Homo sapiens: one gene and its partners. The protein of the gene in region 3 interacts with the protein of the main gene of each other region in a pairwise test. Each region holds a gene or a part of one and is shown on either strand. Other genes may lie near its edges.

Region 1 (4,607 bases), on a different chromosome or scaffold from region 3:
CTGAGGCTCCCTAGTTCTCTCATGGGTGACGTGGGGACGAGAACAGCTAACCTGCTGTGCATGATCACTGTGAGGGGTGGGTGAGGTCACCCCGTGAGCATTTAACACAGTGCCTGGCGCACAGCACGTGCCCCATCAACTGTGCCCTTTACTCTTATCTTTATCATCATGATTAGCTTCTCCCAGGAACTGAAAATTCACTGAAACTCCCAACAGATCACGAGAATTACTTCCCAATCACAACTTGTCGGAGGGAAATATCTGGATGTTTCTCTTTCATAAACATAAGAGCTGTCAGGCCAGTGGCAGTGGCTTAGCCTATAATCCCAGCACTTCGGGAGGTGAAGGTGAGCAGATTGCTTGAGTCCAAGAGTTTGAGACCAGCCTGGGCAACATGGCAAAACCCCATCTCTACAAAAAATACAAAAATTAGCCAGACATGGTGGTGTGCACCTGTAGTCTACTCGGGAGACTGAGGTGGGAGCAACACCTGAGCCCAGGAGGGTCAAAGCTGCAGAGAGCCATGACTGCACTACTGCACTCCAGCCTGGGCGACAGAGTGAGACCCTATCTCAAAAAAAAAAAAAAAAAAAAAGACATTTCTACTTCCATTTTAATGGTCTTTGTGTACTTGTGTCTCCTATTATGAGCCACTACAAATCTTTCTGAAAGAAGACAGAGTATAGAAACAAAACAGCTCCATGGTGAGAAGTAACACAGACCATTCACCTTCTACATCCAGTTGCATTTGCAGGACGGCTGTGCGATTAGATTAGCGTCTGCAGCCTGCCATCCAAGGCTTGCCTCTCTGGATGAGGGTCACTAGTCTTCTCAGGAATGAAGCCAAAGCCAGGCCCAAGCAGCCGAAAGGTAACTCTATCCCTAACAACAGTTACCTGGTCGGTAAAAAGGGCATTGGCCAAGAGGAAGCCTTCTCCCAAAATCATCACCTCAAATTCTCCAGTTTTATACCATAAACCTCAGAGTAAAAGTCTGCATTTTGTTTTCCACAGAATTTTTAGCAGCATGATGCCTTTTTGAAAATTTGCCTTTTCTTCCTATCAGTTTTCCAACCATATGTAGACAAATTCAGCTGTAATGGTTGAAATGAGAGAGCCAGTTAAGTGAGACACTCAAGTTGTCGCTGCATTTTAATAAACATAGCACACAATGTGTTGCTACACAAACACCATTCATAAACCTGAGTCACAGGTTTCAGATGGGAGCTGGGGACGTGTATAAATAGCCTGTGTATGTTAAACAGTAGAAAAGAAAAGAAGTTTGGGGAATAAGGTCAAAATCATTGTGCCCAATTTAAACATCATAAAAATCTCAGCCTTGTCATTATTTACAACCCCCAGCATAACTCCCACCCAAAAGAGAATGCCAAACGGAAAATTCTAAATAAGATGATGTCCTCACGTCGACCTAAACAGTACAAATGATGCAGCATCATAAAACAAAGTTATAATTATGTTGTCTCACTTCCTGGCTGCCGGATGCCCACGGTACAGAGCAGCCACTCCACAGGATTTTCTGAGCTCTGAGCTGTCTGGGGTTTTTGTAAGAACATAGCTTTGACTAGCATTGACCAATTGATTTGCATTTAAAGACTCTGTGATGGTTTGAGGTGGCAAAAGAAGAATACAACTTGTGTGGTGGAGAACTAACACCTTGATCATGTTGCAAACGTTTCAAAAATGCATTTTTCCTATATTCACCCCTCCTCAGCTGAAAATAGCCCAGCAGGCTCAAGGCTGGTTGCAGCTGAAGACAAATCCCACACACCCTCCAGCCCCTCCCATTTGAGAAAAAGGGCATGGCCATGGCTTGGAAGAAAGGCAACAAGAGTCTTGGGCAGCCAAGACATTCTCGAGGCTTTCAACAGGTCCCTGCAGACTTGGCCTTGACTCTGGGTCATTCTGTTCCTTAGCAAGCACCTTGTGGCCTTCCAGCCTCCGCTCCCAGGAACTCATTTGAACTTGCAAGGTGCTGTTCAATGAAGTGGATTCAGGAAGCAGCAATTCTCTCTCAGGAGAGGTCTAGTGTTTCGTCACCTACTCCCCCACACCACTGATGCTCAGAAGGGCTCTAGGACCCCGTGTGTGGAATTCGAATGCCAAAGATTGACAAACAGGGTGACACAGACACGCAGGGTTAACTCGGCTCCCAGCTGCTGCGTGATTCCAGCTCCCATTCAGTCTGACTGCCTGCCGGGTCTATTTCTCACGTATCCTCATTCTGGTCCCTCCTCCAGTCACCAGCAGAAATGCACCTCTCCGTCTCAGGCCTCTCCCATCTCAGTCTCTGATGATGTGCATGGTCTTTGCGTTAAGAGCTCACTAAAGTGTAGATCATGCTGAATGCAAAAAAAAAAAAAAAAAAAAAAAAAGAGAGGAAGGTGTTAGTAGAAGCCCACAGAGGACTCAGGCTGCCCCTCAGGAGAGGGACCTTCCAGAGGCCAGACCCCTTGGCTTCTCCCTCATTCCTGTCACTACAGCATCTCGCCAACTCCACTACTGTGCCCCTTCTACTTCCCACAACACTGGAATAAAAATTTTTTGGGAGAGCATATTGTATCCCTTGGATAAAAGATGTGAAAGCTCTAAGTGCCTATTATCATTCTCATCAGGATGATGATTATGGTTGTTTTCCTTTTTGTGCAATTGCAGGGCAGGTCTGGGGGTGGAGGTGGGGGTGCAGTGGATTCTTTATGCCACCAGCTGCCATGTGCTTGCATGATGGCTGTGTCCAGGGGCTCCCAGATGATGCTGGATAATACGGTAGTGCTGGGGGAAAGATCATCATCACTACTGCAAAGGCCAGCGTGGGAACATAAGCCCTCTGGGCACCAGAACTCAATGAATTCTTGATTGGGTAACTCCCTGGCCCTCTTATTTTTAATGGACTCCAGGAATTAAACATGCATTAAAAGTGTGTGACCTAAAGTATTGCCCCAATACTACTAAGAGTGGGGTGAAGGGGACATGTATCCCTGTGCGCTTAGTAAGGGCTTCAGGGTAATTTTGCAAGGCTGAGGAATGATCTGCACCAAAATATACCTCTTTGTCTATTTCGCAGAAAAAGAAACCAACTATCTTTTCACATTATAGTGAGAAAAAAAGATTCATCTAAGAAGTAAAACCAAAGGAAAGAAATGAAAAGGTTTGACTTCTAACCCTTTGCAGCTGTGGATGCCCAATGAGCTCCTCTGAGTAGCTCAAGTTCCATCTTCAGGAACCTCACACACCTCATGTACACAGAGAACCACTGGTCAGACCTGGAGCAAGAGGGACTTACTCTACTTGGGGAAGCTGAGGGCCAGATGAGGAGTGACAGCAGGGCGAGAAGCCACATTCTAACTCCAAAGCCAGTGCTTTTTGCATAACAGTACTAAGCCTCAAGTGGATACCTTTGTTTACTCACTTTCATTCGTTATGCCAGACACTATTCTCAGTGCTGGGGAAAATGGTGAGTGTGCAGCCCCAATTCCTGCCTTGAGGAAGCATACAGCTAAGCTGTAACAACAAACCACGAGGATTCAGTGAGTGCCAGGCACGGGCCAGGACACTGCAGACGCAGAGGTGAATGAAACCAACATGGTCTCCAGTGTCAAGGAACAAGTAAATCATAAATAACATAGATGGAGAGAAATAAACCTGAGGAGGAACAGGCATGATCCAGAATAACCACGCAGGAGGGTGGTCCTACTACTTCAGGTCGGAAAAAAATCTTTCTACAGAGCAGACACTGTTCACACTGGGCTCACTAGCTAGTATTAGTATCTGCATTAGCTAGTCCCCTTCTAACACAACCCTCAAATATCACCTGGTCCACAAGGCAACCTGAGAAGTGGGGTGATGGGTGCCATGCGGTTCAAACAGGATAGAAGAAAGAGCACAGGCTCTGAAGCCAGATGTTGCTAATTATTAGCAGGGACCTGAGACACATTTCTTAACCTCTCCGAAGTCCTCAGGAGCCCCTCAGGGAGCTCAAACTATAAACTATCAACCCCGTCTTCCCCGCTGTTGTGTGGGTCTCTAGCCCTGAGCTCAGTTCAGACATGGCTCTGCATACACGAGTCCCCTTCCCTCCCTCCCACGGTGGCCTGCGCTGACGCTGCTGTGCTCTCCACCAGCTCCGGATCTGAGGGGCTGGCAGCTCCTAAGGTGGGAGAAACAGAGTCTTTTAAGCAGCCCCAAAGAGCACCAAGGGGCCAGATTCAACAAAGAATGTGGGTGCCCGTGGCGGCCACCCAGGGTCCCAGTGAGGCTGCAGGAACTGTTTCCAATTTTGTTTTAGAAACAGAGTGATTAACACATGTATCATGAAGGCAGGGCCAAACTGAAGTAATGAATTAGAGGACAAACAGTCAAACAGACTGTCTGGAACACACTCGGTTACAGAACAATCACACCCATCTAACCGAGAGGAGCTGCCAAGACCTCCCTACCCCACCCCCTCCCACCCCCGCAGCGGAGCACGCACAGCCGCTTCCCTCCCTGTGAACTCATATGGCTTCTTCCCTGCGACGCCTCGGCTCCAGCAGTTACTGCAACAAAACTGAAATGAGGGAAAGTCTCGCCTCTGTCTTCATCCACACTGAG
Region 2 (8,312 bases), on a different chromosome or scaffold from region 3:
TGAGGGGTGGCGGGGCTTTAGGGAGCAAGACTGGCTTCCACACTTGTAAAGCACTTGGCCAGAGCCTGGCACAGGGTGAGTCTTGACAAATATTAGCTGCTGTCATTAATGTGATGATCATTGCAAACATTACAACCTGCCTCATTCTTTAAAGACTCAGTGGTACCTACTAAGTGCCAGGCCTTGTATGAGTACAGGGCCTCAGTTGAGTAGGACACAGTCTCTGCTTTCAAGCAGCTCCCAGGGCAGTAGGCTAGACAGACAATTTGCTAAGTTTTGTGATGGCAAAGGTGTAGGAGGCTGGTGGAGCTCAGAGGAGTAGAAATGGTCTTAACTCGGGCTTGCCAGGGCTGGGGTCAGTTAGGAGAGTCTTCCAGAAAAACTGAAATTTGCAATCTAGCTGTTATTGTCTCCATTTTTTAAAGCAGAAACTGAGGCTCAGAAAGGTCATGGAGCATTTTTCCTCGCTCTGTCGCCCAGGCTGGAGTGTGGTGGTGCGATCTCGGCTCACTGCAACCTCTGCCTCATGGGTTCAAACAATTCTCCTGCCTCAGCCTCCCGAGTAGCTGGAACTACATGCATGTATCACCATACCCAGCTAATTTTTGTATTTTTAGTAGAGACGGGGTTTCACTATGTTGGCCAGGCTGGTCTTGAACTCCTGACCTCGTGATCCACCCGCCTCTGCCTCCCAAAGTGCTGGGATTACAGGCATGAGCCATCGCAAGCCTGGCCGGTGACACTGGATTCTAATACAGGGTTGCCTGGCTCCGAAGCCTGAGCCCTTGAAGCCACAGCACCCCAGGTTTAAGTCCCTCCTTCTGGGTCCACTCCAGGGAGTCCTTTGGGATCCTGGTTGAATGGAGAGCTCAGCAGGGGCCTGATCACAAAAACCCTGAATGCCAGGCAAGGGAGGCTGGCTTTCTTCCAAAGGGTTTGGGCAGCCACTGATGGGTTTTCAGAGGGGGAGGCAGGCAGGACAGGTGGCATGGCCTGGAAGGCTATTAGGAGCAAGAGTTTGCCAGAAAAGGCAGTCTTGGAGTGTGGGAAACCCAAACAGCCTCAGACCCTCCTTCTGCCCATATGGAAGAATGAGGGATGTGGGGGTGCTGGGGACCAGGGCCTGAGGACTCAGGGTGTAGGCTGGGGTGGGAGGCAGGAAGCTTGGAGTTCTGGGAAGAGCCCAAGATCCAACTTCCAGCAGCTTCAGAGCAGGCTGCAGAGGTCCTGAGCACCCTGGAGGTTCAGAGGGGAGGGGGCCTGAACTCACGGCTGGGGCCAGACTAGGCAGAGGGGCTTGGGGAACAAGGGAAGGGGAGTTGGTTCCCATTTCCCAGGGTAGAGGTCAGAGGTGGAGTTGGGTAGGGGAGGACCCTAAGGGCCATGGCCTAGGAGTCACTTCCTCTTTCCCACAGTGTGGAGTGATGTCACTCCTGAACCCACTCCATTCCATCCCTGCCTTATAGCAGGCAAGCCTTGGCCAGGGGGGCTGTGGGAGAAAGAGGCTCAGGGATGAAAGCCCCTGCCCTTTACCCCCATTCCTGCCACAGCTTGGGAGGGGAAAGACCAAAATGAGTCAGAAAAAACAGGTCCTCAGCCTGGTGGCCCCACCTAAGCCCCATCCTTAACTGAAAGTCAAATCCCAACCCAGCTGTAGCGTCACACTTAAGCCAGACCCACCCCCATCATAAACCTAACCCAGTCACACCTCCAATCTCTGCTGCAAACTCAACTCCAATCCCAGTCCTGCCAATGAGCCCTAACCTAGCCCAAACCAGCCTCCACGTCAGTTACAAGCACCACATCAGTTCAATCTGGACTGCGCCCTCGGCTCCACACCTAACTCTAATTTACCCCTGCCCAACCTCAGCTCCATCTCAACCTGACCCTAATCCAAACCAACTTTAGTGTCGCCCGAATTGACCCCAATCCCAACCCCGCTCCGGTCTCCGCAAGCCCCGGCTCCAGTCTAGCATGGAGCTCAGCCGCACTCCCGAACTTCTCCCGGTGTTCATCCCCACCCCAGCCTCCGAAACTCCTGCCCCTCACCTTTCCCCCAGCTCCATCCCCCGACATCCTGTTGCTCAGCATCCAAGTCCCACGCCCCGACCCTCAGCCCCATTCCTTCCCCTAACCCCACTCACTCCCACGCCCACTCCCACCTGCCCTCAGCGAGGGGACCAGTGTGTGGCTGACCTTGGTGGGCACACACACATGTCCAGGCACGCACACACACCTCAGTGTATACACACACGTCAGCACACACACACGTCAGTGCACACACACACGTCAGCACTCACACACACCTCAGTGTATACACACACGTCAGCACTCACGCACACCTCAGTGTATACACACACTTCAGCACACACGCACCTCAGTGTATACACACACGTCAGCACACACACACCTCAGCACACACACAGTGTATACACACGTCAGCACACACACCTCAGTGTATACACACACGTCAGCGCACACACACCTCAGTGTATACACACACGTCAGCACTCACACACCTCAGCACATACACGCACCTCAGTGTATACACACATGTCAGCACACACACACCTCAGCACACACACGCACCTCAGTGTATACACACACATCAGCGCACACATACCTCAGCACACACACGCTCCTCAGTGTATACACACATGTCAGCACTCACACACACCTCAGTGTATACACACACATCAGCACACACACAGCTCAGCACACACACACACCTCAGCACACACACAGTGTATACACACGTCAGCACACACACCTCAGTGTATACACACACGTCAGCGCACACACACCTCAGTGTATACACACACGTCAGCACTCACACACCTCAGCACATACACGCACCTCAGTGTATACACACATGTCAGCACACACACACCTCAGCACACACACGCACCTCAGTGTATACACACACATCAGCGCACACATACCTCAGCACACACACGCTCCTCAGTGTATACACACACATCAGCACTCACACACACCTCAGTGTATACACACACATCAGCACACACACAGCTCAGCACACACACACACCTCAGCACACACACACACCTCAGTGTATACACACACGTCAGCACACACACACCTCAGCACACATACGCACCTCAGCACACATACGCACCTCAGTGTATACACACACGTCAGCACTCACACACGTCAGCACACACACACCTCAGCGCATACATGCACCTCAGTGTATACACACACCTCGGCACACACACGCACAACACAGCAGATGCACTCAGCTCAGCATACACACACACACCTCAGTGCACATACACACACATATCTCAGTGCATATACACACATGAGCATACACACACACATACCTCAGTGCACATACACACACCCCAGCAGACACCCCAGCAGACACACATCCCAGCAAACACACACACCTCGGTGTACACACACGCGCCTGTGTATATACACACTGACACACACACACCTCGATGTATATATGCACACCTCCTTGCACAGACACAGATACCTTGGTGTACACGGACACACATATACCCCTCAGCATACACACACATACACCTCAGCATATATACACATACACTCCTCAGTGTACACACATGCCTCAGCACACACACACCTTCAGCACAAGCACACATACAAACACACCTTGGCTACACACACCCATCAGGGTATATACAGACACCTTGGCATACACAGACATACACATCTCCGCAGACACACCCCCCCTTAACACACACACACACACACACACACACACACTCACCAGAAAGGGGTGGGAAATCCAGTGCAGCTGTGAGGACTGCCCTGGGAGCTGGGCCAGGAGCTACCTGCCCCTCCCTGAGGGCCTTGTCCCTGCAGTTCCCTCCTGGTCAGGCCCTGCTCTCTCCAATTCCCTCTTCAGTGTTGACTCTCCCCACCCAGGAATTCCTGCCCAACCTCCCGCCCTAGGGCTGTCCTGGCATCGGGCCAGGTTGGCTGAGTAGAAAGATGACAATCCCAGGGCTACCCTTTCTCCTGTGTCCTGGGGATTCCTGCTCACAACAGCACACAGTGAATGCACGCTGCCCTGAGGGCGCAGTCTGAATGGGGTCAGAGTCTATAGGGGCGCGGGCACACCCAAGCAATTCCCCAGTGAGATCCGCGGAAAGGGGACTGTATCTGCAGGGGCAAGGGGGGCGGGCGGATTGGGGAGGAGCTCATTCGAGGACACCCTGAGGCTGCAGGGCAGGCAGGACAGGATGGGGACCAGCACAGGATGGGGACAGCCTGTGACTCAGACAGGCAGGAGGTCACCAGAGGGGCCAGGGAGGACCAGGAGCTGCTGTGGCTGCTAATAATATGGGAATGGACCTCTGCTGAGCACCTTCTGTGTGCCAGGCATTGAGCTAAATGTTTTTAAAACCTCACTTGATTCTCCAAACAGTAATGCCTACCACACACCTACCCCATGAGGTAGGTATTATTTTTGGTTCCCACAGGGGACACAAGGGACAACGAGACTCAGAGAGGGGAAAGCATTGGCCCAAGTTCACACGCCTCACAACTGGGCAGTAGGTGGAACGGAACCCAGGCTGTGCGGAGGGCTTCCTTGAGGTCGCGGCAATCAAACCCAGACCCTGACTTGCCCTGCAGCCTCCCCCGTGGAATTTCTCACATTTCCCTGAATATTCCAGGCCCGTCTCACCTCCTGGCTGTCCCTTTGGCATGAAATGGCCTTCTGTCCTCAGTCCCTTCTCTGGGAAAACTTCCACCCATTCTCCAGAGCTCAGCCCCCAGTGCAGCCCCGTCACCTCATCCTAGGATCACCCCACCCTAATCGCCCTGCGTTTCACTGTCGGGCTGGGCCCCCCTCCTCAAGGGCAGGGTCTGCCGGCCCCACACAGCAGCACAGGGCAGTCGTGAGTGAATGTGCCTTGTTGGTGAATGAATGCAGGACCCAGCCCGGCTGTGGGTCAAAGTAGGTGCTCAGGGAGGGGCCGGGGCCCCCCCTGCCTGGCTCTTATCTCCTAGGGCTGTCTCGAGCCTTATCTGATAAGGCCTGACAGGTGAGCAGATGAGACTGACAGAGGCTTCCAGGTTACTCAGTAACCTGCCCTCTTTAAAAGTCCCGCCGCTTCCCCCTGGCATCCAGAACAGCCACCCCTCTCTCGGGCACTGCTGCCATGAATGCCTTCCTGCTCTCCGCACTGTGCCTCCTTGGGGCCTGGGCCGCCTTGGCAGGAGGGGTCACCGTGCAGGTGAGTCCTGTGTCCCTACCCCGGCCCAGCTGGCTCCCTGCCCCTAGTGCCCAGGTCTGGTCCCCTGAGAGAGTACCTCCTCTTTGGGGCTGGATTGAGGGTGTGTGTCCCAGGCTTGGCCTTCTTCGAGGAGCTCCTGCTCAGTCCAGCCACACACACACCTTTCCCTTCAACTTTGGAGGAGAAAGAAACCCAGTGGAGGGAAGAGGAATAACCATATGGGGAAGGCGGGGAGTTGGCCAATTTACTGAGTGTCCTATGTGCCGGCTCCTTCCCCAGCCCCTCACTGTGGCTCCACTATCAACCTGGAAGAAAGGGATCATTAGTCCCATTTTACAGAGGGGAAAACTGAGCCTCACAAAGGTTCTGTAACAGGCCATGGGCACATGGCTGTGGGAAGTGCAGGAGCTGGATTTAAATCCAGACCTTACTCCTCAGTGGGTCCCAGGAACCACATGGACACCCTGGAGGTCCTGACAGATGGGTATGCCTACCAGTGCCAATGCTGGCGACAGGCCAAGCTGGCACCTAGCGGGGGCCCTGATCTCTATCAAAGCCAGATTCCGGGAGGCCTTTTATTGCTTCTCAAACCAAAACCAGGCTGCAGGCTGGAGCTGGGGGCCCAGTAATCAGCCGCACCGCTCTCAGGCAGGGGAAAGACAGCCTGGGCTTGGCCACGTGGAACTACGATGCCTGGGTGCTGGTCCTTTGCCTCTCCCTAAAAATCAGCACACTGGCTCCTACTCATTAGGCACCTATGGTGTTCCTGGAGCTTCACACCCATTTTCTCCATTCCCCATACAACATGCAGAATTTGCGGGTTCCAGAGTGTCCAGCATCACGGAGCCAAGCCAGGACGTGGGGCCTGAACTCTGCCCCTCACAGTGCCCCACTGTGGATCGCCTGGCTCCCATATGCCACGAACACTGCCTGTGAGCACCACTGGGCTGGACCGGGGCCAGCACGGGGGGCACAGCCAGGAAGCAGGCTGCAGCCTGGCCTCATGCTCTGGGCTTCTCTCTTCCAGGATGGAAATTTCTCCTTTTCTCTGGAGTCAGTGAAGAAGCTCAAAGACCTCCAGGAGCCCCAGGAGCCCAGGGTTGGGAAACTCAGGAACTTTGCACCCATCCCTGGTGAACCTGTGGTTCCCATCCTCTGTAGCAACCCGAACTTTCCAGAAGAACTCAAGCCTCTCTGCAAGGAGCCCAATGCCCAGGAGATACTTCAGAGGCTGGGTGAGCAGCCTCCTTCCTCTCTGATTGGTGGGGTTCGGGAATACTGTGGTGGCACTTGAGGAAGAGATGTGCTCTGATTGGTGGGATTTGGAGGAAGGGCTCAGCTCTGACTGGTGGAACTAGGGAGCTTGGCTCTGATTGGTGGGTCTGTTCCATGCCCACTTCAATTCCAAGTTGTAACTGCTGAGGTTTGGGAACTAAGACCATTCATCTGGTCTTAGTTTCCTCTCTTTCTGGTGGAATCTCTGCTTTGATTGGTTGGTTTGAGTGGTCTGTGTGCCCTGGTTTGGGGCGAAAAGCCCAGTAGGTCAGAGTACGGGCCTGCTGAGATTCTCCTGGGGCTGGGTGGTGACGTACAAGCTCTGGGCCAAGGGCGGCAGGGGCCTCGCGAGGAAATGCTGGTTCTCACGAGGCTCCATCTCTGTTGTGCAGAGGAAATCGCTGAGGACCCGGGCACATGTGAAATCTGTGCCTACGCTGCCTGTACCGGATGCTAGGGGGGCTTGCCCACTGCCTGCCTCCCCTCCGCAGCAGGGAAGCTCTTTTCTCCTGCAGAAAGGGCCACCCATGATACTCCACTCCCAGCAGCTCAACCTACCCTGGTCCAGTCGGGAGGAGCAGCCCGGGGAGGAACTGGGTGACTGGAGGCCTCGCCCCAACACTGTCCTTCCCTGCCACTTCAACCCCCAGCTAATAAACCAGATTCCAGAGTACTCTGGGTGTTGCCTTCCTTCCTTCCTTCATCCCCTAGTCTATCCTGCCCTGGAAGCTCGGGATGTAATGTACTAAGCGAAGGACCCCACTCTCCCTGCTAAGCTGCTCACTGTCCCTGGGGCTGCCACAACACAGAGGCGTGGAGAGGATCTGGATCTCCAAACCACCAAGGCAGCGGGTGGTGGGGAGGGTTTGCTTTTATTTCACATCTCCTGAGGTCACCAAGTTCACTGAGCCACATGTGAGCACGGGAGCCAGTCTGAGCTGGTTTGGACAACCAATACAGGCACTTGGCCCACTAGAAGACTGGCACCAAACTCTTGGGTATTCAAGGACTTGGCTCCCACCAGCCATGCTAGTGTGGCCTCCAGCCCTGACCACATCCCAAACCACACCTCTTGCCATTTCCTCTGCTGCTGCTCACCTCTCCACTGCCCGTCTTCCCACACTACTGTCCAGGCAAACTCCTACTCAGGGTCCAAGGCTTTCATTCCACGGCCTCTCCTCAAGACAACTTGCTCAACCCCCCAGGAAGAGTCTCAGTGCTCCCATTGTGACCTTGACCTTGGTGCTTTCTGGGCACTGTGATCACCCACAACCCTTGCACAGCTGTGGCCACCCTGTTGTGTAATGGCTTCTGTGCCTGGGGAAGTCTCTCTGACCTCCAGACCCACATGGATAATTGCATGAGGATATAAAACAGGGCAGGGGCCCAGCCACAGCTTTTCCAAGTACTGTGTGATCTTTGGAAAGTCACCTTCCCTCTCTGTGCCTCCACCTCTTCCTCTATAAAACTGGGACACTAATATTTCCTGCCTCCCAGGCTGGGTGAAATAATGCATATAAAGCCCTCAGTTCAGGCCTGACACAAACGTAAGAGGAATTCAATAAGTGGTAAAACAAACTAGAGAAAAGGGGACCAGGATCAGGCTGAAAGTGGTTCAGACAGGGTGAGGAGGCAGGGTGTGGAAGTGAGGCCTATTAGCAAAGGTAGAGGGAACAAAAAAAAGAGGAGGCAGAACTCCCAAGGGTCCATCTTGAGGAGTGGGGTGGAGGGGAAGTGTCTCAAGGGGGATTCCATGGGCTTCAGAATTCAAAACATAAGGTCTCTTCTAGTTGAGATCAGTAAGGC
Region 3 (8,518 bases):
TGGTGGTGGGGGCCTGTAATCCCAGCTACTAAGGAGACTGAGGCAGGGAGAATTGCTTTAACCCAGGAGGCGGAGGTTACAGTGAGCCAAGATCCCGCCTCTGCACTCCAGCCTGGGTGACAGAGTGAAACTCCATCTCAAAAAACAAAACAAAACAAATAATAATGATAATAAATAGGCAGGGTGCAGTGGCTCATGCCTGTAATCCCAGCACTTTGGGAGGCCAAGGCGGGCAGATCATTTGAGATCAGGAGTTCAAGACCAGCCTGGCCAACGTGGTGAAACCCCATCTCTACTAAAACTACAAAAATTATCAGGGTGTGGTGGCAGGTGCCTGTAATCCAGCTACTCGGGAGGCTGAGGCAGGAGAATCACTTGAACCCGGGAAGCAGAGATTGCAGTGAGCCGAGATCATGCCACTGCACTCCAGCCTGGGCAACAGGAAGAGACTGTCTCAAATAATAATAATAATAATTAATTAATGAGATGAAAAAACATAGGTACAGAGTTAATATGAATATTACAAAGGATTCCCAGAGCAAAGAAGGTAGCCAATACATAAAATGAAAGGTACCAGACTCCTATGGTAGAAGCTGGGCCTAGACATAATTTAAGTTTTTATTCAATACACATAAGGCTCACTACAGCCCTACTCTCTCTTCCACCCTATACAGAGCTCTTGGTAGGGATCCCATAGCTGGAGCCATAGGTCTTCTCCCCATCCCAATGGACAAACAAAAGAGATACTTTATGCCATAAAAAAAAAAAAAGAACTAAAATATAATCAGAGTAGTTCCTTGGGCCAAGAATAACCTGTATTTTGCTTTTCTATGAGACAGCATGGTAGTACAACCTGCTGCTCCTGCAAGAATACCCCTTAGAGATTTTGCATCCTGGGAAATCATCCAGTCCAAGGATGAAAGTAGACCAGTACAGACTCGGGACAGGAAGGGGTGGCTAAGAAAAAAAGGGAAATCAGTGGCATGCAAAACCATCTCATTAGAAAGATGAAACTGAGGAGTAAATTGCTGATTACCTGAAAACAAGAAATCCAAACAAGAAAATATTATGTTCATTAAGAAAGACCACAATATATCTATAAAACTTTTATTAAAATTGGAATTAGAAACTATACCAAAAACTTTAAAAATACATTAAGACATTGTTCTTTTTTCTTACAGAAAAGAGGGTGAAAATAAGACCCATGGCAAAGAGCCATCCCTGATAATTTTGTTCCTTTCAAACATTCATGAACATTTAAATAAAATTACAAATATTTAAATAACCCTAAGGTATTACCCACAGGCTAAAACTTGCCAGTAATTCCTTAGCCCTGCTATTTCAATATCAATTCCACAAACATGGAAAATTATGGTAACTGCAGGCTGTAACAGTTTCTAATATTCACATTATGAACTATTTGTTATGTTGTCATAAGAATGTGCTCATGCTATAGGCAAATTCAGAGGTGATTTCACCATTTTCAAATTATCATCAAGAGTGTGAAAGAGGAAGATGACACACACGTGGGATGGTGTGGAAATCCAAAGCCCCACATTTTGGGAGTCTGTGACCACTCCCATCTGCCACTAAAGCTACGAGTTGGTGTTGGCATGAATCTGCTTTGTTTATTCCCAGCAGGCTCTGGCTCGTGTCACATAAGGCACCAACATCCTTTTCAAGGTAGTAACCATCTAGAATCAACTCAATTGTAACCTGAATTCATAAGCTTAAGTCACCAAAAGACATCACTGGGTCATAATTATATAGGTTCCCCTAAAAAAATAAAAAAAAAATCAATTTCTGCTATGTAGAAAAAGAAACAAAAGGTTTAGGTGCCTTTGCCTTGTGCAATGGATATTTCATATGTTTATTAATTGGTTTCAGTTAATATGTAATATGAAGGCATGATAAATGTGTCAAACTGTTCTCTTGTTTCAGATACAATTCTTGGCATTTCAATATAGGTTATTATCTCATATGTCAGACTTGAGTCCAGAGAATACTAGAAGGACATTTAATTTCCTTTCCTCCTCCTTCCTTTCACTACTCAATTCAAAGAAAAGTTATGAGTACACAGCTAGGAACCATTTTTACGTAGGCATCCATCTGAGCCCATCTTGTTTTTTTTTTCTAAAACAACAAAAAGACTAAGGACAATTACATAATGCATTCCCAAGCCTTTTATGGATATCAGGGCCTGGGGGGACTATCTGGCCTATTTGGGTTCTTTCATTCACCAAAATTCTATTATACATGCCAAGGGTTAAAGGGAACACCATCAGTCAAGAGACGGCTGGGCCCTAGAATGGAATCTATTAGCATAAAATGGAACAGTGGGACCCAAAGAGCTATCAGCAAAATTCCCTTTGTAACAGACGTAAAAATCATGAATTTGAGGGGAAAAATAAACTAGTTTTGGTGGGATGCAGTGGCTAACAGGAATTACTTATTAGAAGGTAATGAAGTTGCTAAATTTTCCTTGTTTTTGATCCCTGTGTTCTGTTGGTCTCTTGAAGCAATCTGAGTGGGAAAGGAAAGTGAAAGAAATGTTTTATGCCAGCTGCCTCTTGTATTCCCATTAATGGGAGTCTCTACATTAATGCTCTACATAATTTGGTCAGACTGATGAGAGGCAATAGATTTCCAATGCTGATGAGATCCAGAGCCCTGGAGCCCATTTATGGCTTGACATTCACCCAGCAAGACGCTGACGTGGCAGCAAACACGGCTCCAATGTCCAGCTTACCTCATAGTTATCCCTTCAATCCTTCTTGATGAGATTGGTCTGAGAGATGAGACTGTACTGAAATCACAAGAGCTATAACTGCCAGAGAAAAATTAAATGGGGTCTTCAAGTAGTGACTGAGCCAGCAAACTAAGTGGCCAAGAGGGAGACAAGAGCAGCTCCTAAAGAAGGTTGAAGTCAAGCAATCTCCGGAACACAGAGGATCTGAAGCATCTGGGCAGAGCCACAGGCAGGCAGGGCAAGGACACACAGCACACCAGAGCAGCACCGTCCTTCACTGTGTGAGAGCAACTCTCAGGCTGCAGAACCAATTGCCATCTCCACTGCCTACAGCTCAGGTCTCCAACTACCAGATAGGGAGTAAAAAACAGTTTGATTTTATTCACCTCAAGTCTAAACACGGTGGAAAAAAAACTGGTCTAGAGATGGAAACTATATTTCATGGGGGTTTATTAAACAGAGAAAGAGGAGAATCTTTCACAATTTCACAGTGCTTTCTCATTGAAATAAAGACATGATCAGGAAAAGTCACCCTTATAGGCAAGCTATCACCTCCCTAAGTAGGGGAGGCACCAAAATCTCCAGAGAATCCTGAGACCACTTGCACGAGTTGAATTATTTTTTAAAATAAACTTATGCTTAAATATGCTAGGTCTCAATTTCTATAAATAAGGTAAAAAATAGTATATTTCAGAAGTTTTAATAGTTCTTTGTAGAGAGAGAACATTTTACCATGTACATAATTCACAAGGGTATAAAGGTTTCCCAATGTAAAGTTCCTTTTACCCTTCAACTGTAACCCATAGCATCTGCCCAAATACTGCTCATTTTTCACTTTCTACTATATGTCTCTTTCCTGCCAACTGAGGTAGTTGTCACTTAGGACAGTTTAAGGCTCTGGAAAACACTGGTGGAAATAATCAACTGCCCACCTGGAGGGCAGTCTCAGAGCTGACCCTTTGGAAGTCTGCAATGGAGCTAGGCCTTTCAAAATTACCACGCTAAATGGCTGGTCTAAAGGAGTCATTACGGCTTTTTAAAAAATCATCTGCCTTTTTCCATCATCTTGGTGAGCCAGTAAGTCTGGTGCTGTGCGCTTGCCATGACCATCTATCTTCCTGGCTAAGGTAATTACAGACTTTTCCAGGGTATAAGGGTGAAGACCACAAAGAAAAAGAACCAAGTAAATGACAGACACTTGAGAATTTGCTTCCTCACAGATGACATTGCTGGTTTATAAGGGGTACTTTGCAATGGCAAAAGAATCTGAAACTAATGCTACTGCAATAACAGGCAGCATACATCTCAGGTCAGAAACGCAATCATAAATAAGTGTAAGTTCATGGAAACTTGACAGCTGAATGAGCACCCAGAGGCATGAAGATAACCTGGAGCCTATTTCCTGGCAATGCAAATTGTGGCTGCTGCATAACTACAAATTGTGTATCAAGAAACTACATAGTTTCAAGGCTTAAAAATTACCCAGATTTGGGGGAGTATGGGTGGTGAGAAAAGGCTGAAAGGAATGGACAGAGCATGTAGACAAAGGAAGGGAAAGGAAAAGGAGACAGTTTCCTGATTTCATAGCAACTCAAAGATAACATGACCCAATGACAGGAAAATGGAGAACGTATAAAAAGCATCCAAATCCCCTAAACAAGATGACTTCTCCTAGCTAGCAGGAATAATGCTACTCTGAACATACATAGTTCACAGGTAAGGGAACTGACCCTTCCTGAAAGGGCAAAGGCAGGGTAAGGAAGAATGGGAAGAGAAGAATACAAATGTTTTTTAAGATGGAATTGAAAGTTGAATATAATAAAAAGCCCAGTACATCTCACCTGCAGAAGAGCCTACAGGCATGTTCCTAAAGGCAAATAGGACTTTCTATCATATGTATGAGAACTAAATCAAAGCTTAAAACAACAGCTCCTGGGGCTTTAATGGATAATCCATATTAATAAATATGTAGGGGCCTAGGGGGTGTGTCACTCTGGAGCACTTGCTGGTTCTGGAACATGAGTTTGTTATGTTTTTTAAAAGACATTCATTTAAAAAACAAAACAATAAAAATCTATTTTCCTCCCAAAACAGTTAAATCAATAATTATTCTAAAGTCACTGAAATAAAAGCTGGAGTGAAGGAGGCTCAGATTTGTGGATTTCTCTCTGGAAGTTGCAGCCTATAGTCTAAAAGCATTCCTGCACTTAACAACAGTTCTTACTTTGGAGAGCCAGCCAGTGACAGAAATGCCATGATTGAATCAACTTTCAAGAAGGAGCTAGAATGCCATGCTAGCTGTGGCCATCCAATTTCTCTGGAAACATAAAAGTGGGCTGTTAGCTTAACCAATGGGAAGTGAACTACCCAGCATTCACTACTTTATCCACTCTCCTTCCTCAGGGATCCCATAGAGACCTCCCATTTCCAAAGGGAGGCCTTTTTAGGCCTCTTATTTCAGTAGGAGAATTTCTACCCTATCTATCTCACTCTGTTTCAAAGGGTTGAAAGCAATTGCACAACACATGCAACATGGACCAAGGCACCAAGCCAGTCCACGTAAAGATAACTGACCACTACCTAGGTTAGAAAGTTGTTCTGTGTGATAGCAGGACACCGAGAATATGAGTCCTCCTCCTCAGAGGATGCTTCCTCATAGATTTCATCCTGGGCAATAATGCTCCCTAATCCATACTCCTGCTCATGGACAGAAACTTCATTTGGCGTGAGGTGGGAAGAGCCTTCCACAAAGTCAGCAAATCTGGAAAAGAGAAGATAATACTCGTTAGAAATATCCTTCTGTCCTTTCTGGTCTTCTTTCAAAATAAGAACAAATTAAAGCCCTCGATATGCTCGCAACTCAAATTATATTAAGTCTAGCCAACATCCTTGTCCTTACTCTGGCAGGTAAGTAGACTAAAGCATGAAGTTAAGGAGAAAAGGAAAGCTGGGATCATAGGCTAATACCCCTGCAACTCCATCCTGCTTAATAAGCACTTGCCTATCCTTTCTAATTATGAAAGTGCCAAGGTTCCTTTAGTCATCTGTAATCCTGATAAGAGAAGATTAAGGGGCATTACAGTTATTCACGTTTATGGCCCTGTAAACTTTATGCCATCATGATTCCAAATTGAAGCTTCACATACTCATTGGTACATTTGCCCCCAACTAAAAAGTGGGTAGGGGGGAACCCTACCAACTCAGACAGCAATGCAAAACTTTCAGAAGGGAAACTTAATATGGTACTGGAGTCTTCCCATCTTAATGCTACAATCAAAGCTAGAGTAGATAGTTCCCTGAGGAAACAGGTTACTGCTTAATGTGTGATTATATATCCACCCTTCTCTTGACTACTTGAAGATTAACAGGAAAACAAAGGTCACAAGTGCACGATTCTCTAGAAGTATGATCTCTGGTAGAACTCAAGGTCACAATTACCCTGATAGATGCTTGGTATATCTGGCCGAGTTTACCTTTTTGGAGACTGGATTCGAGAAACAGTCTTCCAAGCAGAGCAGTCTGGACTGTTACAAAATTCTCGGAGCTCCTCTAAAGCCTTTCGGGTTTCTACCTCTCCTTGTATCCGATATTCTTCTTCTGTCAGGAGACGAGGGGGAACAGGCTTTTCTGCTCCCTTACACACCTTTCTGTGCTCACCAAAATAACATTATGAATCATTAATCAGTAATCTATATCCATCCTTACTTCTAGCTCCCTTCAGTGGGCCAAGAATACAGCAGACAGCCTGAACATTAAGAGTCATCACTCCTAAAAATTCCATGGACATCTTTAGTTATAATGAACTCCTGATACATTAGACTATGAGTGACAATTCATAGGCGACAGAGCGAGACTCCATCTCAAAAAAAAAGTGATATAATTTGCACCACCTTGTGGTAACAGGAACACATGACATTTTACTAGACCTTTTTATTTTATATAAAATGACTAGAATAAAAATATAAAAATGCCTATAGAAAGTAAAAAATTATAGTCAATATTATTCACTAATGTGAACAAACTCACTTTATTTTCCAATAAATGATAAAATACTTACTTATTTTCTAGTAGATGGGAAAATAACAGAAAATCATGGTATAAGACTGTGGTTCTAGCCAGGCACAGTGGCTCACGCCTATAATCCCAGCACTTTGGGAGGCCAAGGCAGGCAGATCACCTGAGGTCAGGAGTTGGAGATCAACCTGACCAACACAGAGGAACCCCATCTCTACTAAAAATACAAAATTAGCCAGGCATGGTGGTGCATACCTGTAATCCCAGCTATTCGGGAGGCTGAGGCAGGACAATCGCTTGAACCAGGGAGGCGGAGGTTGCAGTGAGCCGAGATCATGCCATTGCACTCCAGCCTGGGCAACAAGAGCAAAACTCCATCTCAAAAAAAAAAAAAAACAAAAAAAAACGCCGGGCAAGGTGGCTCACACCTGTAATCCCAGCACTTTGGGAGGCCAAGGTGGGCAGATCACAAGGTCAAGATTGAGACTATCCTGGCCAACATAGTGAAACGCCATCTCTACTATAAAAATGCAAAAATTAGCTGGGCATGGTGGCATGTACCTGTAACCCCAGCTACTCAGGAGGCTGAGGCAGGAGAATCGCTTAAACCCAGGAGGCAGAGGTTGCGGTGAGCTGAGATAGCACCACTGCACTCCAGCCTGGTGACAGAGCAAGACTCCATCTCAAAAAAAAAAGATTGTGGTCCAGTAACTTGGTTTCCCAAACTGAAAGCATCACCTTGACTATCTATAATAGACAACTTCAGGACCTAGTAACATTCCATATTTATTATGCAAGGTGACAAAACATGCTATGAATTACATCTTAAAATAAGACTAAGACCTCCAGAGCAATCTGAAAGCCACTGAGAAATAGTCTGAAATGGGCTGGGTGAGGTGGCTCACGCCTATAATCCTAGCACTTTGTGGGGCTGAGGTGGGCAAATCACCTGAGGTCAGGAGTTTGAGACCACCCTGGCCAACATGGTGAAACCACATCTCTATTAAAAATACAAAAATTAGCCAGGCATAGTGGCGCCCACCCGTAGTCCCAACTATTCGGGAGGCTGAGGCAGAAGAATCACTTGAACCCGGGAGGTGGAGGCTGCAGTGAGCCGAGATCACGCCATTGTGCTCCAGCCTGGGTGACAGAGAGAGACTCTGTCTCAAAAAAAAAATCTGAACCCAGGAGACCTCAATGAGCATACGGTATAAAAGCGATACAATTTGTGGCGGGGCGCAGTGGCTCATGTCTGTAATCCCAGCACTTTGTAATCCAAGCACTTTGGGAGCTCCTCAGCACTTTATGAACTCCTGACATTTGAGGTCAGGAGTTCAAGACCAGCCTGGTCAACATGGGGAACCCTACTAAAAATATAAAAATTAGCTGAATGTGGTGGCGCATGCCTGTAATCCCAGCTACTCAGGAGGCTGAGGCAGAAGAATCGTTTGAACCCGGGAGGTGGAGGTTGCAGTGAGCCGAGATCACGCCACTGCACTCCAGCCTGGGCGACAGAGCGAGACTCCATCTCAAAAAAACAGTGATAGAATTTGCACCACCTTGTGGTAACAGGAACACATGACATTTTACTAGACATTTTATATAAAATGACTAGAATAAAAATATAAAAATTCCTATAGAAAGTAAAAAAAAAAAAATAGACTCGGGAAGGAACAAAAGTGGAAGTACAATACAATGACTTTTCATTAACAAAGAAGCTCCCAGGTCAACACCTCTGTATCCTCTTGCTGCAAC

Evidence for each region. Proteins that work in one complex are often made in the same cells at the same time.
Region 1: the proteins of NEMP1 (region 3) and CNIH3 interact in binary tests that used the Homo sapiens proteins (3 or more experiments, as listed by UniProt).
Region 2: the proteins of NEMP1 (region 3) and GUCA2A interact in binary tests that used the Homo sapiens proteins (3 or more experiments, as listed by UniProt).

The regions. Positions count from the first base shown.
Region 1 is NC_000001.11:224,737,081-224,741,687, reverse strand, and holds the end of CNIH3 (protein cornichon homolog 3), read right to left. Parts: intron 2,360-4,607; coding exon 2,332-2,359; 3' UTR 1,134-2,331; downstream 1-1,133. UniProt on the Homo sapiens protein: Regulates the trafficking and gating properties of AMPA-selective glutamate receptors (AMPARs).
Region 2 is NC_000001.11:42,161,557-42,169,868, reverse strand, and holds GUCA2A (guanylin precursor), read left to right. Parts: upstream 1-5,123; 5' UTR 5,124-5,156; coding exon 5,157-5,231; intron 5,232-6,258; coding exon 6,259-6,466; intron 6,467-6,898; coding exon 6,899-6,963; 3' UTR 6,964-7,179; downstream 7,180-8,312.
Region 3 is NC_000012.12:57,054,550-57,063,067, forward strand, and holds the end of NEMP1 (nuclear envelope integral membrane protein 1 isoform a precursor), read right to left. Parts: intron 6,397-8,518; coding exon 6,223-6,396; intron 5,511-6,222; coding exon 5,330-5,510; 3' UTR 1,094-5,329; downstream 1-1,093. UniProt on the Homo sapiens protein: Together with EMD, contributes to nuclear envelope stiffness in germ cells. Required for female fertility. Essential for normal erythropoiesis. Required for efficient nuclear envelope opening and enucleation during the late stages of erythroblast maturation.